Homo sapiens: one gene and its partners. The protein of the gene in region 1 interacts with the protein of each later gene in a pairwise test. Each region holds a gene or a part of one and is shown on either strand. Other genes may lie near its edges.

Evidence for each region.
Region 2: the proteins of DNM2 (region 1) and PHOX2A interact in binary tests that used the Homo sapiens proteins (3 or more experiments, as listed by UniProt).
Region 3: the proteins of DNM2 (region 1) and IQUB interact in binary tests that used the Homo sapiens proteins (3 or more experiments, as listed by UniProt).
Region 4: the proteins of DNM2 (region 1) and MALT1 interact in binary tests that used the Homo sapiens proteins (3 or more experiments, as listed by UniProt).

The regions. Positions count from the first base shown.
Region 1 is NC_000019.10:10,724,579-10,728,078, reverse strand, and holds part of DNM2 (dynamin-2), read right to left. Parts: intron 1-3,500. UniProt on the Homo sapiens protein: Catalyzes the hydrolysis of GTP and utilizes this energy to mediate vesicle scission at plasma membrane during endocytosis and filament remodeling at many actin structures during organization of the actin cytoskeleton.
Region 2 is NC_000011.10:72,241,377-72,245,504, forward strand, and holds the start of PHOX2A (paired mesoderm homeobox protein 2A), read right to left. Parts: upstream 2,801-4,128; 5' UTR 2,629-2,800; coding exon 2,412-2,628; intron 1-2,411. UniProt on the Homo sapiens protein: May be involved in regulating the specificity of expression of the catecholamine biosynthetic genes. Acts as a transcription activator/factor. Could maintain the noradrenergic phenotype.
Region 3 is NC_000007.14:123,531,796-123,536,063, forward strand, and holds the start of IQUB (IQ motif and ubiquitin-like domain-containing protein), read right to left. Parts: upstream 2,801-4,268; 5' UTR 2,697-2,800; intron 1,399-2,696; exon of another isoform or gene 569-1,398; intron 1-568. UniProt on the Homo sapiens protein: Adapter protein that anchors the radial spoke 1 (RS1) complex to the A microtubule of outer doublet microtubules in axonemes. The triple radial spokes (RS1, RS2 and RS3) are required to modulate beating of the sperm flagellum.
Region 4 is NC_000018.10:58,744,465-58,747,964, forward strand, and holds part of MALT1 (mucosa-associated lymphoid tissue lymphoma translocation protein 1), read left to right. Parts: coding exon 1-31; intron 32-1,201; coding exon 1,202-1,327; intron 1,328-2,940; coding exon 2,941-3,378; 3' UTR 3,379-3,500. UniProt on the Homo sapiens protein: Protease that enhances BCL10-induced activation: acts via formation of CBM complexes that channel adaptive and innate immune signaling downstream of CARD domain-containing proteins (CARD9, CARD11 and CARD14) to activate NF-kappa-B and MAP kinase p38 pathways which stimulate expression of genes encoding pro-inflammatory cytokines and chemokines.

The DNA.
Region 1 (3,500 bases):
GTTACCAATATTCACAGAAACCCAAAACGCACCCGGAAGCAGGCGTCTTTCCTCTCTTTGCAGTCCTGCTTCAGACGCAGGGCCACATTTTCCCTTTATTCAGATTGTAGCTAATGCCCTATAAATATCTCATTATTGGCTTGGATTTTTCCAAAGCTTTAACACAATAAGGGCTTAATTACAGCTTGTAGTTGGCAATCCCAGTAAATTACGGTTTACATGATGTTCTCACTTTTTTTCAGCAGCCGAGGGGCCTATAATTTCAGCACTTTCATTCAAATCGGGCAGAAGTTTGGCAGATGTGGCTCTGAGCCAAATATAAACGCTGAGAGCGACAGCGAGACAGGGTTCCATTCAAAGGCCAGCCTCTACCGCCTAAGCCAACTCTGAAAACTCTAAATCTAACCTAGGCCGGGTGCCGTGGCTCTTGCCTGTAATCCCAGCACTTTGGGAAGCCGAGGCAGGAGAATCACTTGAGCCCAGGGGTTTGAGACTAGCCTGGGCAAAAAATAATGAGACCCCACCTCTACAAAAAATTTCTTAAAATTAGCTGGGGGTGGTGGCGCACACCTGTGGTCCCAGCTAATTGGGAGGCTGAAGTGGGAAGATCCCTTGAGCCCAGGAAGTTGAGGTTGCTGTGAGCTGTGATCACGCCACTGCATTTCAGCCTAGGCAACAGAGTGAGATCCCGTCTCAAAAAAAAACAAAAAAAGAAAAAGAAAAGAAAAGAAAACCTCCTCTCTAAATCTACAACTGTCCCCAAGGCCATCTTCCGCCCTCATCCAGAAACAATCCAGGTTATTACCAGGGGATTTCAATGTTATGAACCTATCAAGGGCTGTTATCCGTCAATAAGTAACTCTGAAAAAGCACTTGGACAGCCTAGAGCGCAGCTTTGGAGAAATCTGTCTTCCTGATTATAAACCTAATCCCCAAACCAGCAAAAACAAACCAAGAATCACATGGGGAGACGATTCACATGTGGGGTTAGGGCAGAGTATGTCTTTCCGGTCTTTTCACTGAGCAAATACAATCGTTTTAAACAAGACAGGATCCCACAGCCCATTTCATCTGGTACCTAACAGGTCTTGTGCAGCTTTCTGGGTCATTAAAGATTCTTCTAGATCCCTCTGAGTAGCGAGTTGATAGTCGGTTGTCTGGACACGCTTATCTGGCCAAATCCCCTATCATTGGTTTTTGTTTGTTTGTTTGTTTTGAGACAGAGTCTCGCTCTGTTGCCCAGGCTGGAGTGCAGCGGCGCAATCTCGGCTTACCGCAACCTCCGTCCCCCAGGTTCAAGCGATTCTCCGCCTCAGCCTCCCGAATAGCTGGGATTACAGGCGCCTGCCACCACGCCCGGCTAATTTTTGTATTTTTAGTAGAGATGAGGGTTCACCATGTTGGCCAGGCTGGTCTCGAACTCCTGACCTCTGGTGATCCGATGCTGGGCATTTTTTCTCCCATTTCTCATCACCGTACACAAAATGTGTGTAAATAACTCTCACGGCCAATTACTTGTTTGCAGCCATGATTCCCACTTAGAAAGGAACCAGGAACAACTTCTGGTCGATATTTCAGGATCTGGGGAACAGGGCGTGCCTGCATGTCCTGGTCCTGGCTGTATCCCCAGAGCAAGAACATTGCCTGCACTGATAGGCACTCCATTTATATCAACAGAGTAATGATGAGTTCCTTCTCTTTAAGGAAAAAGAAACTAAGGCCGGGTTCGGCGGCTCACACCTGTAATTCCACCACTTTGGGAAGCCAAGGCAGGAGGATCGCTTGGGCCCAGGAGTTTGACACCAAACTGAGCAACAAAGTAAGACCCTGTCTCTAAAAAAAAAAAAATTTTTTTTTTTTGAGGCAGAGTCTCGCTCTGTCGCCCAGGCTGGAGTGCAGTGGCACGATCTCGGCTCACTGCAACCTCCGCCTCCCAGGTTCAAGCGATTCTCCTGCCTCAGCCTCCCGAGCAGCTGGGACTACAGGTGAGAGCCACCACACCCACCTAATTTTTGGATTTTTAGTAGAGACAGGGTTTCACCATGTTGGCCAGGATGGTCTCAATCTCTTGACCCCGTGATCCGCCCGCCTCGGCCTCCCCAAGTGCTGGGAATACAAGTGTGAGCCATCGCTCCCTGCCAAAAAAATTTTTTTGTAATTAGCCAGGTGTGGTGGCTCATGCCTATAGTCCCAGCTACTCAGGAGACTCAGGTGAGAGGACCACCTGAACCCAGGAGTTGGAGGCTGCAGTGAGCCATGATTACGCCACTGTACTCCAGTCTGGGGGACAGAGCAAGAGAAAAGAAACGTACACCTGTCATCAGAGTCCTGATCCCAGATAAAAGGAGACAAAAGCCAACCAACGAGATCACAAATGCTGCCTGTTTCACAACAATTTGCTACGTGATTCTCAGTCCACTCCCAGTAGGCAGAGACCACCATGTTCCCATTTTCCAGATGAGGAAACTGAGGCCCAGAGAAGTGAGGTCACTTTTTTGGTGTGTGGCAGAACCAAGCCTTCCATATTCCCACAGATCCCTCTGGACTGTACCAATTCCAGCAGGCCCAGCACTGCAGACCACCCTAACCGAGCCTTGCATGGCCTTTCCTTTTTTCCTTTTTTTTTTTTTTTTGAGATGGAGTCTCACTCTGTCCCCCAGGCTGGAGTGCAATGGCGTGATCTCCGCTTACTGCAAGTTCCTCCTCCTGGGTTCAAGTGATTCTCCTGCCTCAGCCTCCCAAATAGCTGGGACTAAAGGCATGCGCCACCACACCTGGCTAATTTTTGTATTTTTAGTAGAGATCGGGATTCACTATGTTGGCCAGGCTGGTCTCAAACTCCCAACCTTGTGATCTGCCTGCCTCGGCCTCCCAAAATGCTGGGATTACAGGTGTGAGTCACCATGCCCGGCCATGTATGGCCTTTTCAAGATGCAATTTGTCTTTGCCCAAAAGGAAAGTCACTGGAAACAGAAGATGTCATTTCCAAGTGGCTCTAAACTAATAAGATCTGTTAAAGGGACAAACCAGCCCAAGGAACACATCACGTGCCCCTCCATCTGTCAGGGACAGGAGCCAACGGGCATCCGATGTGCACTGGTGCAGCACCCACTGAGGCACAGGCAGTGCCCCCGCGGCTCATCCACATATCCCTGGAGGGACACATCACCAAAGGCCAAATAAAAACGCAGCTGGAAACGCCAGCATCCCCGGCACAGCTGCTTCTTATTAAAAGAAAAATGGCACGGGGCGCCTACATGCCTGTGGAGTCTGCTTACTGAGAAAACTGAGTTGAAGCTGGAAATCAAAGGAGAGAGCCCTCAGCTTGGCCAGGTCCAGAGGGACAGCAGTAGCGCCACCAGCTTTACTTCCCTCTGCTCAGACAGCCTCCCTGCCCACAATGTTCCTAGAGGCCTGGTCCCACCCTAATATCTCCCAGATCTGATCTCCCTCCACTGGCCTGCTAAACTGGCCTCCGGGCATCCTCCCACATCAGGACC
Region 2 (4,128 bases), on another chromosome or scaffold:
GGGAATCACACGCCTCCCCCGTCCCTGGCCTGATCCCTCGTCTTGGTCCCGGCAGCCTGGGGCCGAGCGTCCTCCCTATTACTCAATGGAGCCGGCGGGATAAAGGCGGAGGGAGATCAGGGAGACCTGAGCCCCAAGAGCGGCCAAGGGGAAAGCATAATCCAATACTCCAGCCAAGACACTCCCTCCCCCACCCCACCCCCGTCGTCGCCCTCCTCCCAAGCCCTGTTCCCTCCATCTCCCCCTGCACCCCCATTCAACCGTGCCTCCGACCCTTCCCTCCTGTCTGTCTCTCAGCCCGTCTGTCCCCTCTGTCTACCCTGGCCCTGGATGTCTGTCAGGTCTCATCAGCATTGCCAGTCTTCCCACTAACCAGTTCTGGGCCAAGGCTCTGCAACAGAGACCCTCCCACCGGCCCTCCTTTCAGCCCTACCACCAGCCTTCCCACCGGCTCTCAGCTGTATACAGATTTGGCTCCCTCCACCCATCCACCTCTCCCCTTCCCAAGCCTCATTTCTTCAATTCTGCCCCACTCCCCTGACCCCCATTCTCCCCTAGATGTCCCCCTCTCCTCTTCCTAATCTTCCTCCATTTGAATCTCTCTTCAACTTTCCATTTCTCAGCCACTCTTCTCTTTGTGCCCATTGAGAAGACTTCCTCCATCTTCTCTTTGCGCCCATTGAGAAGACTTCCTCCATCTTCTCTTTGCCCTCCTTCTTCCTCCCCAGGCACCTTCTCCATGTCCCATCTCCTCCAAAGCCAACACTGCCCCCCAACTCTCTTCCTATACCCATCCCAGTCTCCACTGCCCCATAGGTAGTGTTTCTGACAGTACTTCCCTTCCCTGTCTGTAACCCTGGTTTAAGTCTTCATATTCACCAGGGGTCTCCAATCTCATCTTTGTCCCATCCAGGCCTCCATCTCCCCTGATTCTTGTCTCCAGCACCCCATTTGTATTCTTATCTTCGTCATCTCTATTTCTAATCTTCTTTGGTCCCCATCGCCTGATACTTATCTCTATCTCCCCAACCCTGAGTCCCCATTTCTCCTAGGATTTCCAGTGCTTCCATCTCTGCTCCCATCTCTCTGTACCTTATCCCCATCTCTCTGGTCTCAAAACCCTGTATCTCTGGAGGCTGTCTCCCCTCTTCCCAATCCCTACCCTCATCTGGCTCAGGGTACCCAATCTCCCCACCCTGGGCCTCATTTCTCCAAATCCAGGTTCTCATTTCTCGTATCTCTTCCCCAAACCCCAGCCTAGGGCCCAGTCTTCTTCTTCTTCTTCTTCTTTTTTTTTTGAGACCGAGTCTCATTCTGTCACCCAGGCTGGAATGCAATGGCACAGTCTCAGCTCACTGCAACCTCTGCCTCCCAGGTTCAAGCGATTCTCCTGCCTCAGACTCCCAAGTAGCTGGGATTACAGGCGTGGGCCACCATGCCCAGCTAATTTTTTTTTTTTTTTGTATTTTTAATGGAGATGGGGTTTCACCATGTTGGTTAGGCTGGTCTTGAACTCTTGACCTCAAGTGATCCACCCGCCTTGGCCTCCCAAAGTGCTGGGATTACAGGCATGAGCCACCGCGCCTGGCCCTTAGGCCCCAGTCTTCTACTTGGGTCCCCGGCAGTCTTCCCAGGAGGGAAGGCGATAAGATTACATAGGGCAGGCTGGGACTCTAATCAGAGGGCTGAGATGACTGAGAAGCTCAGTGAGGTTGAGGGTTTGGACAGGGACTTGGATCTAAAGTCTTGGGGATGCAGGAGCTGCTTCCGGGTTCTACAGAACTCTAGCTGGGAGAGTCTGGGGGAATGGGGAAATACAAGTGGCTTAAAAACCCGGGCCCCTTTATTGCGGGCTACGGGATCTGGTTTTGGTGGCTACAGAAGGGTTCGGTCCCAGGCAGCGTGGGTCCAAGACAGGGCAGGAGGGGCCTGATGGCCACGCGAGCTCTAGGAAGCTTCCCGTCTGGGCAGCTCAGCTGCCTGGAGAGGTCCTTGCTGGGGGTCATGCATCTCGTGGGGCAGCGGTGATGGGGTGGGGTGATAAGTGGTGATAGGGCTGGGCTGGGAGCCTTTTTCAAAGATCCAGCGCTTGTAGAGGTTTAGTGGTCAGTCTTTGCAGGTGGTGAGGGGAAGGCCTGGTAAGGGGCCCAGAGCTGGATGGGGATATATTTCCTTGACCTGAAGGGCACGAGACAGAGATTTGGCAACGAGAAAAAGGAACAGGAGAGATGAGAGGGTGAGGCTCATTCCTGCGGAGGAGAACCTCGTATTCTGGGGGTCTCTCGGGGCATTGGAGGGTCTGGCCAAGGCAGGAATGGGGGCGGCTGAGGGGGACAGTCGCATTCACTTGGCGAGCGGGCCCAGGGATTCTGCAGGAATTGGAGGGAGGGTTGGGCCGGGGCTGCGCTCACCTGCCGAGTAGGGCGCGGGCTGGTGGTCGCGTAGGGCGCCAAGTGCGCAGTTGGAGGAGCCGAGCGCGGGGCAGGGCGGCCCTGCCGCGGGGAAAGCGGGCCGCAGGGGGCTGTATTGGAAGCCGCCGGGCTGGCTGCAGGCGCCAAAGTCGCCGTAGGCGGACGCCTCCATGGCCGCCACGCACGAGTCGTACGAATTGAGGTAGGAGTAGTCCATCGGCCCGGGGGGCGGGGGCGGGGGCCGGGCCAGGCCGGGTCGGGGTCGGGGTCCGGGTGGAGGTCGGAAGGGAGGTTCGAGCGCCAGGCTCCGAGGACCCGAGGCCAGCTCTGAGCGCCCGAGAGTCCGCCCGCCCCGTCGCGGCCGCACTCAGCCCGGGTGCAACGCAAGTGCAGCCAGCCCGGCCCGCGCGCCTTTTAACGCGCAGGACCCCGCGGAGGGGGGCGGGGCGGGGCGAGCTCCGAAGGGGCGGGGCCTAGGAGGCCCAGACACCGCCCAAAGCCGCCCCGACCCCCACCCCGAAGGGTCCCCGCCGCCGTCTTAGGGCTCAGAGGTGTGGAGCTGGGATGCGCGGGACCCTATCCCCGGAGTCCCTATCCTGCCCCAATCCGGACCAGACCTTCGGTCTCTACACAGCGTCCGAGGCCAGAGGGTCCCGACCCTTTTCCCGGGCCTCCCCACCTGCGGCCCCGCGGAAGGGAGGGGAGGCAGGCCTGGCGGCGCTCGTGTGAAGAAGTTAATTCAATTCGCTCTGATAACCGAGTTATTCCGATCTGGCCCCTCAGCCCCGCCCCCAGCGAGGTCCCATCCCGGCGGAGACTGCGGAGGCGGCCCAGGAAGGGGGATGGAGACCGGGAAGAGACGGAGCCTGGGATGGGGACAGGGAAGGGACGTGGATAGACAGAGGAAACAGAGACCGGGAGAGAAAGGGGCAGAAACAGTGATGGAGACAGGGACAAGAGATACAGGTACACAGAGGGAGACAAGGACGGAACATACACAGCGAAAGACAGGATGGAGCGGGGACAGGGCAGAGACAGGAGATGAGGGTAAGAGAGAGACAGGATGGAGCGGGGACAGGGCAGAGACAGGAGATGAGGTTAAGAGAGAGACAAGAGGAGACAGGGAGACAGGGGGACGAGAAAGAGAGTGAGGGAGGCATGGAGACAGAAGGGGTCGGGATGAGACATGGACGGCAACCAGGACTGCGGTGGAGAGCAAGGGAGGGATGAGACAAAACAGAGGCAGGAATCGTGAGACAGACACATATGCCCAGGGACAGTCTGAGAGAGACAGGGCCAGGGACAGCCACAAGCGCGGGAGCAGAGGCTGAGAGCGGAGAGAAAACGCCTCCGGGGAGCTTAGACACGAGGGCTGGAGCGCAGAGGGGCCCAGGGATGATGCTGGAGGCTCTGGGGTGCGGCCTCCACGGGGCTGCGGAGAGGGAGGGTCGTGGGAGCCAGGTCCCTCTACCCTGACTTGTCCCGAGGCCCACACGACCTTGCACCTTCAGGGCCCGCCTGCCTCTCCCCCCGTTCCCTCAGCTCCATCTGCAGTATGCGACCCTCTCCTGTGACCTTGGGCTCAGGATGCGATGGATGTCAGAAAGGGAACGTACCCCGTGACCTCTTTATTGTTCTTCAGTCTCTTACCCCTGTTCTCCAGGGCCCCCCGCTTTTTTTCTCCAGGGAAACCACCTAGACTCAGTCTGCACCTGGC
Region 3 (4,268 bases), on another chromosome or scaffold:
TCAAGCTTCAGATGCCCAAGACTTATTTAATGTGTAAATCTTCACCACTACAATAACCACATGGTTAAACGATCACCACTTCCATTAGCAAGCTCAAGCCTAATAAGTGATCTCCTGGGACTTCAGCACAGAGGTTTTCTAATTTTATTCCTCCACTCAATGTGGCTATTCTCCCTTATCTATTCACGCTGGCAAAGCTTCTAGTTAAACTGGAATTAGTAACTATTTGATGATAATAATTAACATATACTGAGTGCTTCCGATGGCGCAGTTAATTCTTACAGTTGATAAAAGTGTGGCACAAAAAGGTTAATCAAGTAGCAGAGGCAGGATTTGAACCCAGGAATTCTGGTTCCAGGGCCCGGATTCGGAGTTACAAAGGTGAGTAAACTGAAAAGAGTCCTACTTTTATTGTCATTGCTTTCTAATAAAAATTATTTTTTTCTTCCAATTGTTTAAATCTCTTCTCATTCTCTATTTAAATATTAGGCGTTCATTTAAATATTAGGCGTCTACCTTACAGTAGGACATCTTTAAACAACGTAAAAAAGGAAAGCTTTGTCTTCACCTTCACACATACCGGTCTGCCCATAAATTTTGCAATCCAGTTCTGCCTGATTCTAAACTGCTTGTCTCTTGAAGCGAATGCCTTAAAAAGTGACACTGGGATCAGGATAGTTATCTCCATCCATCCTCCCTCAGAAAAACAACTATATTCGAGTAATTCTTGGGACCACTGAGAACAATACACAGACCTTTGGGTAACTTCAAGACAAAAAAGGCAAAAAGTCGGGGAGAAGGTGTGGGAGGATGATTTTCCCCTTCTAAACGTAAGGTATAAAAGGGCTCAGAAAGCGGAAAAAGAACCCTAAAAAGCAAGGTGCGGGACGGCGTGAGGGACCACACATTGGGCGCTCCGCCCAAGGGGTCCGGCTCCTTCTCCGCGGCGATGGCGCGTCCTTGGGCTCAGCAACCCTCCTGAAGACACCTAACCTCCTCCTTCTCCAGCCTGCCCCTCTGGGGCCTGCGAGCCCCGTCCCGGGCCGGGGGTCGGAAGCCGTGCCATGTAGGACCCCGAAAAGGCCCCCAAGCTTGGCGCGGAAGGCGCCGCCAGTGACCGGCTGCGGCTGGGGGCGGAGGCCGGCAGTTGCTCGGAGCTCCGGCGGGTCAGGAGGTGACGGGAGGAGGAGGAGGCAGGAGGAAGAAAGGGGGGTTGGGAGGTAGCGTCCGGTAGGTCTGCGCAGACAGCGCTGCCAGACCTCTGACTCCCCCAGTCCTGCCGCCGCCGATAGCCCCACAAGGCGACATGGGAAGTCCGCCGGAGCAGAGGGGAGAAAATTCAAAACGAGTCTACTCAACCTCGTCTTGGCTCCGAGGCCCCGCCATGCAGACCCCTCTAGTTTTTTACTATTAAAAATAGTGCTGCAACAAACATTTTATACATCTATCTCTGTATATATGTGTAAGTATACTGAAAATGAGTTCCCAGAATTAGAATGGACAAGTCAAAGGGCATACAGATCTTAATTTTGTTAAATTCCATCAAACTGTTTTCTATTATAGCCCCAAGAAGTTCCCCTTGACTGTTTCCTTACATCCTCATATTGTTTTATGAGTCCTAATAATTAAATATCCCTTTGTTGTGTGTTGCCCTTATATTTCCCATTGTATGTTTGATGTTGTTTTTCTCTTACTATATAAAAGTTTTAGATTGTTAGGTAGTGACATTTATCAATCTTTTTGCTTATGAGAGTTTCCAAATTTCCTGACATGCTTCGAAACACCTTCTCACAATGAAACATAAATACATAAATTCATCCATAAATGCATAAATGAGACAGATCTGTAAATATTGATAGAAAACAACTGGACACACAGTCTTAAGTGTAAAAGCCAATCACAGAAGAGTATGCACAATGTTACAGGTGTAACTACATATTTGCGTATGTCTAAAACACCTGTGGAAGGTGGCCTGGAGATGGGGAGAAATGGGTAGATGGAGGATTTTCACTCTTCATTCTTTTTACTATTCGAACTATTTTTTTATGTATTATCTATTCAAATGAAAATGTTTAAATCTTATTGTTTAAAAAGCAACCTCTATCATGTTTGCATACAAAAAAGTCTCCCTTTTCACCTACATTTCATTCCCTACCATTTAAAGCTTAACACATTTAGAATGTAGTATAATTAGTGAGGCAGGGATCCAGTATTGCCTTCTACCAAATAGATCTGTTGAATTTTTAGGTTTGTTAAGAGGCAAAGACCAAGGGTGGAGAGGAAGGAGTGAGAGTGCCAGGTGAGGAAAGTCTAAAATCTCTCGACTTAATATGAGAATGGTGGCCACGGAAGGCTAAGAGTCTCTAGTGCCAGGTGTGGGTTATACACACATCTTCTATGCAATTACCGTGACAAGCACCCAGGGTGTGAGGTGAGGTGTACCTCCTAGCTTGATGCTGCTGGTTCAAGTCCCAAATCAGAGAGGGGAAGCCAAAAAAGGAGCCGAGAAAGATGAGATGCTTCGCACGGTTTTTAAAGTAAAGTCGGAACATTCCTGACCGACTAGGCAGCCCCAGGCGCTCAGGTGGGAATCACTGCCCAGCACACAGAACCCAGAGTCCAGCGCGGCTGTCACCGGCTCTAGGCTGGATCTAAGCGTCGGACCAGGAGGCCGCAGTCAAAATCTGTTCTCCTACCTGTGTACGAAACCAAACTATTCTCGTCGAAGTGCTTTCCCAGGCTCCTAAGACGCAGCTTCCATACTCGCCGCGTTCTCAGCTGTTGGTCGTATCCTAGCAACGGCCCTGGCACCACCTCTTCCTGCCGGAGCACGGCAGGGGTGGGAAGGAGAGGAGCCAGAGGCGGGTGGGGGGGAGGAGCCAGAAGAGGGCAGCGGGGAGGGGCCGGGAAGGAGGAGCGCGGCAGGGTAGGGGGAGGAGCCAAAGACTGGGGGCGGGGCCGGGAAGGAGGAGGGCGGCAGAAGAGAAGGGGATGAGCCAGAGGCGGGGAGGTGGGGCCGGGAAGGAGGAGTGCGGCAGGAGAGAAGAGGAGTAGCCAGAGGCGGAGGGGCGGTGTCGGGAAGGAGGAGCGCGGCAGGAAATAAGGGAAGGAGCTAGAGGCGGGCTGGGGGCCGGGGTCTGGAAGGAGGATCGCGGTAGGGAAGAAGAGGAGCCAGAGGAGGGGGATGGGGGCTGCAAAGGAGGAACGCGATAGGGAAAAGGGGGAGGAGCCAGAGGCGAGGGGGCGGGGAGAAGAAACATGGCAGGAGAAAGGGGAGGAGCCAGAGGCGAAGAGACAGGAAGAGGGACGCGTCAGGGAGAAGGGGAGGAGTCAGAGGCGAGCGGGCGTGGAGGAGGGAAGCGGCAGGGAGAAGGGGCGGGGCCAGAGGCGAAGGGGCGGGGAGGAGGGACGCGGCAGGGAGAAGGGGAGGAGCCAGAGGCGGAGGCTGTTACCAACTGGCTACCTAGATCCAAGTGAATCAGGACACTAACTTCTCTCCAAGATCTTTTACACTTGTGAAACGGCACAGCTCTCTAAACCAAACACTGACAGCAGTTTAATTTTACAGATATAAAAAAAATCCGAGTCAGAGAAATCATCACGATGAAGTCAGAGGCGAGAAACTGTCAGGTGCCTACTTGCTTTTGTTAAACTAACAACTTGGCTCTCAGCTTCCTGGCAGCCAAAGAGAAAAGGGAGATAGTAGCTATCAAATAATTCTGCTTAGAAGAACTTTTGTTAATCACTAAATTAGTTAATAAACTAAATTTTGTCTAACAACAAATTCTTTTTTTTTTTTTTTTTTCTAGTGTATACAGAGTCTTGCTCTGTCGCCCAGGTTGAAGTGCAGTGGTTCGATCTCGGCTCAATGCAACCTCTACCTCCCTGGCTCCCGCGATTCTCCTGCCTCAGCCTCCTGAGTAGCTGAGATTACAGGCGCCCGCCACCACCCCCGGCTAATTTTGGTATTTTTAGTAGAGATGGGGTTTCACCATGTTGGCCAGGCTGATCTGGAACTCCTAGCCTCAAGCAATCCGCCTTCAAAAGTGTTGGGGATTACAGGAGTGAGCCACCGCGCCCGGCCTATCAATGAATAAGAAAACTTTTAAAGAACCACAGGATAGTATTGGAGGTCAAGTCAAGTATGTTCCTCTTGGAAATTTAGTAACAAACTACATGTTGCTATCTCATAATAGCAGCTAACATTTATGAAGTATTCATTGTCATGAGGCACCGTACATAGATTTCTAATTTAATCCTTACAACGA
Region 4 (3,500 bases), on another chromosome or scaffold:
GTGTGATGCCTACGTTACTGATTTTCCACTTGTGAGTCTCTTCTTTTATTTAAAATACAGTGATATATTCTCACTTATTAAAGACTAAATTTTTTAAAACTTAAAGTTGATGGTAAATATAAAGGAAATATATATATTTATATATGTGTATATATTTATAGTTTAGTAACACTGATCATAATATTTACTAATTGCCAAAATACCTTAAGTTTATGAGATTTAGAAATGTCTAAAGTTCACTCAGGAAGGATGCCTCTAATTTCTTATATCCTAAACACGAGAGCCAATGTGAAGGAATAAAATGTGCTATAAATATGTCAAGAATAATTTCCTTTTAAACAGTTATAACTTATATTGGAAACAGTAGTTTTTAAGTCTTGTTAAGGTATGGTCATATGCTGGAATAATAGAAATCTAGTTCTGCTCTTTTCAAACATTTAGGTTTGATAGTTATTTTACGTTGGTCTAAAGAAGCCAGTAAATAGTACCCCTCTTTCCTACATGAGTGTGACAAACTGAGAAGCAAGCAAGGAGTAAGACAAGCAGAAACCCAAAATATCACTTTGATTACTGATAGAGGCTTTGTGGAGGATATTGCTTCATGTCAGAGTAAATGGTCTAGCACCAAACCCCAGAATTGAGTGGCCACCCCACACCTCCAGTCTCAGCAGTACGGAGCCCAGATAGGCTTCCTGAGGTACTGAGCAAGCTGGGGGCCTGTGGGCTTCTCACTGGAGCAGCAGAACCCTTACTCTTGGCCATTGGGTTGGCTCTAAAAGAAGAAAAAGGAAAAGGCTGTTTATTTATCCTTCTTAAATATTCTAATCATATAAATTTCCCTGCACCTTCCCAAAAGTGATGATTAAGAGGAGAGAATCCAGGAGTCAAACACTAATGGGGCTCTCTCTGCTTAAGAGGAAACTTGAGTAGCTCAAGAAGCATTTCTAGGAATCATTTGAAAGGAAGCTCTTTCAGAGCTCACTTTACTTTTTAGATGGCTTAGTACAGAATTGAGAATTCCTATTATAACCATAGATTGTTGTTTTCATTGTTTAGTCCTGGATAATTTTGGGATTACCAAAATTCACGAGAGGCCAGAATTCACGAGAGGATAGTATCAGTTAAGATGTCTTATGTACTAGATTATATTGTGGCTTTCATTGATTTCATTATTAACAGTCCCTAATTTTTTTTTTTACAGGATCTAGATATTGATCCAAAAGATGCAAATAAAGGCACACCTGAAGAAACTGGCAGCTACTTGGTATCAAAGGATCTTCCCAAGCATTGCCTCTATACCAGACTCAGTTCACTGCAAAAATTAAAGGTTACTACCTTTTCTGTTTATAGCTACTAATGGAAAACTTTATGAAACTGGAAACTTATTTTGGCATAGACCATAGATATGCTGCCTTATTATTAAAGTAGAGATAACCAGTCTACAGAAGGTCCTATCAGTGACCCTTTTTATATTCTGTTTCCGATGGTGACCAGAGGACTTTATGTGTGCTTACCCTCCAGAATGCTAAAAAATTAGTAACATTAGAGTATATTCTTTTTTCTTTTTTTAGAGACAGAGTCTTAACTCTGTCACCCAGGCTGGAGTGCAGTGGCATGAACATGACCTACTATAACCTCAAACTCCTCAGTGCATATGATCCTGCCACCTCAGCTTCCCAAGTATCTGAGTCTACAGGCACATGCCACTACACCCAGCTAATTTTTTAAAACTTTTTGTGGAGAAGGGATCTCACTATATTGCCCAGGCCAATCTCAAACTCCTGGCCTCAAGAATCCTCCCTTCTTGGTCTCCCAAAGCACTCGGAGTACAGGTGTGAGCTTCCACTCCCAGCTCCATATTCTACTTTTAAATATGTTCAGATTTTCAAGTAATCATTTCCTAGTTCTATGACTAGACATATAGCAAATTAGAATTTTTTTTCCATTTTTTTATTTCTAGTTGACTTACAAATGAGAAGCTAGTTCTGCACATTGAGTGTTCTAATGAAAGCTTTTAATTTGTTCACAACTACATGACCATAGAATGTATCAGCTAAAACTCAGGGAATGGAATGGGCATGATTGAGAATTACACACATAAACCTGTTGTCATCCTGTTCGGAGCTCATCTACTTAAAATCCTTTCTTCTCTTAAAAAGTTAGCCCATTATCTGATTCAGTTATATTTTCCACCTACGATTATGGATTACTATAATATTTTAAAAACAGCTTAAGCTTTTTTTATAAAACTGGTATAAAACCAGGTTTTTTTTTTTGTTTTGAGATGGTGTCTCTCTCTGTCGCCTAGGTTGGAATGCAGTGGCGCGATCTCAGCTCACTGCAACCTCCACCTCCCAGACTCAAGTGATTCTTGTGCCTCAGCCTCCCGAGTAGCCAGGACTACAGGCGCACACCACCATGCCCAGTTAATTTTTTGTATTTTTAGTAGAGACAGGTTTCACCACGTTGGCCAGACTGGTCTTGAACTCCTAACTTCAAGTGATCCATCTGCGTCATCCTCCCAAAGTGCTGGGATTATAGGCGTGAGCCACCACGCCGGGCCCAGATCATTTTTTAATTAAAAGTTAATACCCCATCTCTAATAATAGGGAAGGGTAAGTTTCCTAAGCTGCACTGCTTGGAAAATGTTTTCCCTGTTCATCTAGAGTGTAAGAAAGATCTCTTTGACTTTGACTACTAACAGTAGTAAGAACTAGAAATTCTAAATGGGTTGTAAGTATTGCATGAAGGAAAAGGAAGATAATGATAGCTGGCGTTTCTCAGTTTCAGGGAGATATAAAGGATGCCTTGAGGATTTGGAACCTGGGAAAGGAGAGTGAGTGGATTTTTGGGGGTGGGGGTGTGTATGTGTGAATATTTTCAGATTGATATATATTCACTGTTGATGCCAATAATAAACCAGATTTTTTTCCTTTTCAGGAACATCTAGTCTTCACAGTATGTTTATCATATCAGTACTCAGGATTGGAAGATACTGTAGAGGACAAGCAGGAAGTGAATGTTGGGAAACCTCTCATTGCTAAATTAGACATGCATCGAGGTTTGGGAAGGAAGACTTGCTTTCAAACTTGTCTTATGTCTAATGGTCCTTACCAGAGTTCTGCAGCCACCTCAGGAGGAGCAGGGCATTATCACTCATTGCAAGACCCATTCCATGGTGTTTACCATTCACATCCTGGTAATCCAAGTAATGTTACACCAGCAGATAGCTGTCATTGCAGCCGGACTCCAGATGCATTTATTTCAAGTTTCGCTCACCATGCTTCATGTCATTTTAGTAGAAGTAATGTGCCAGTAGAGACAACTGATGAAATACCATTTAGTTTCTCTGACAGGCTCAGAATTTCTGAAAAATGACCTCCTTGTTTTTGAAAGTTAGCATAATTTTAGATGCCTGTGAAATAGTACTGCACTTACATAAAGTGAGACATTGTGAAAAGGCAAATTTGTATATGTAGAGAAAGAATAGTAGTAACTGT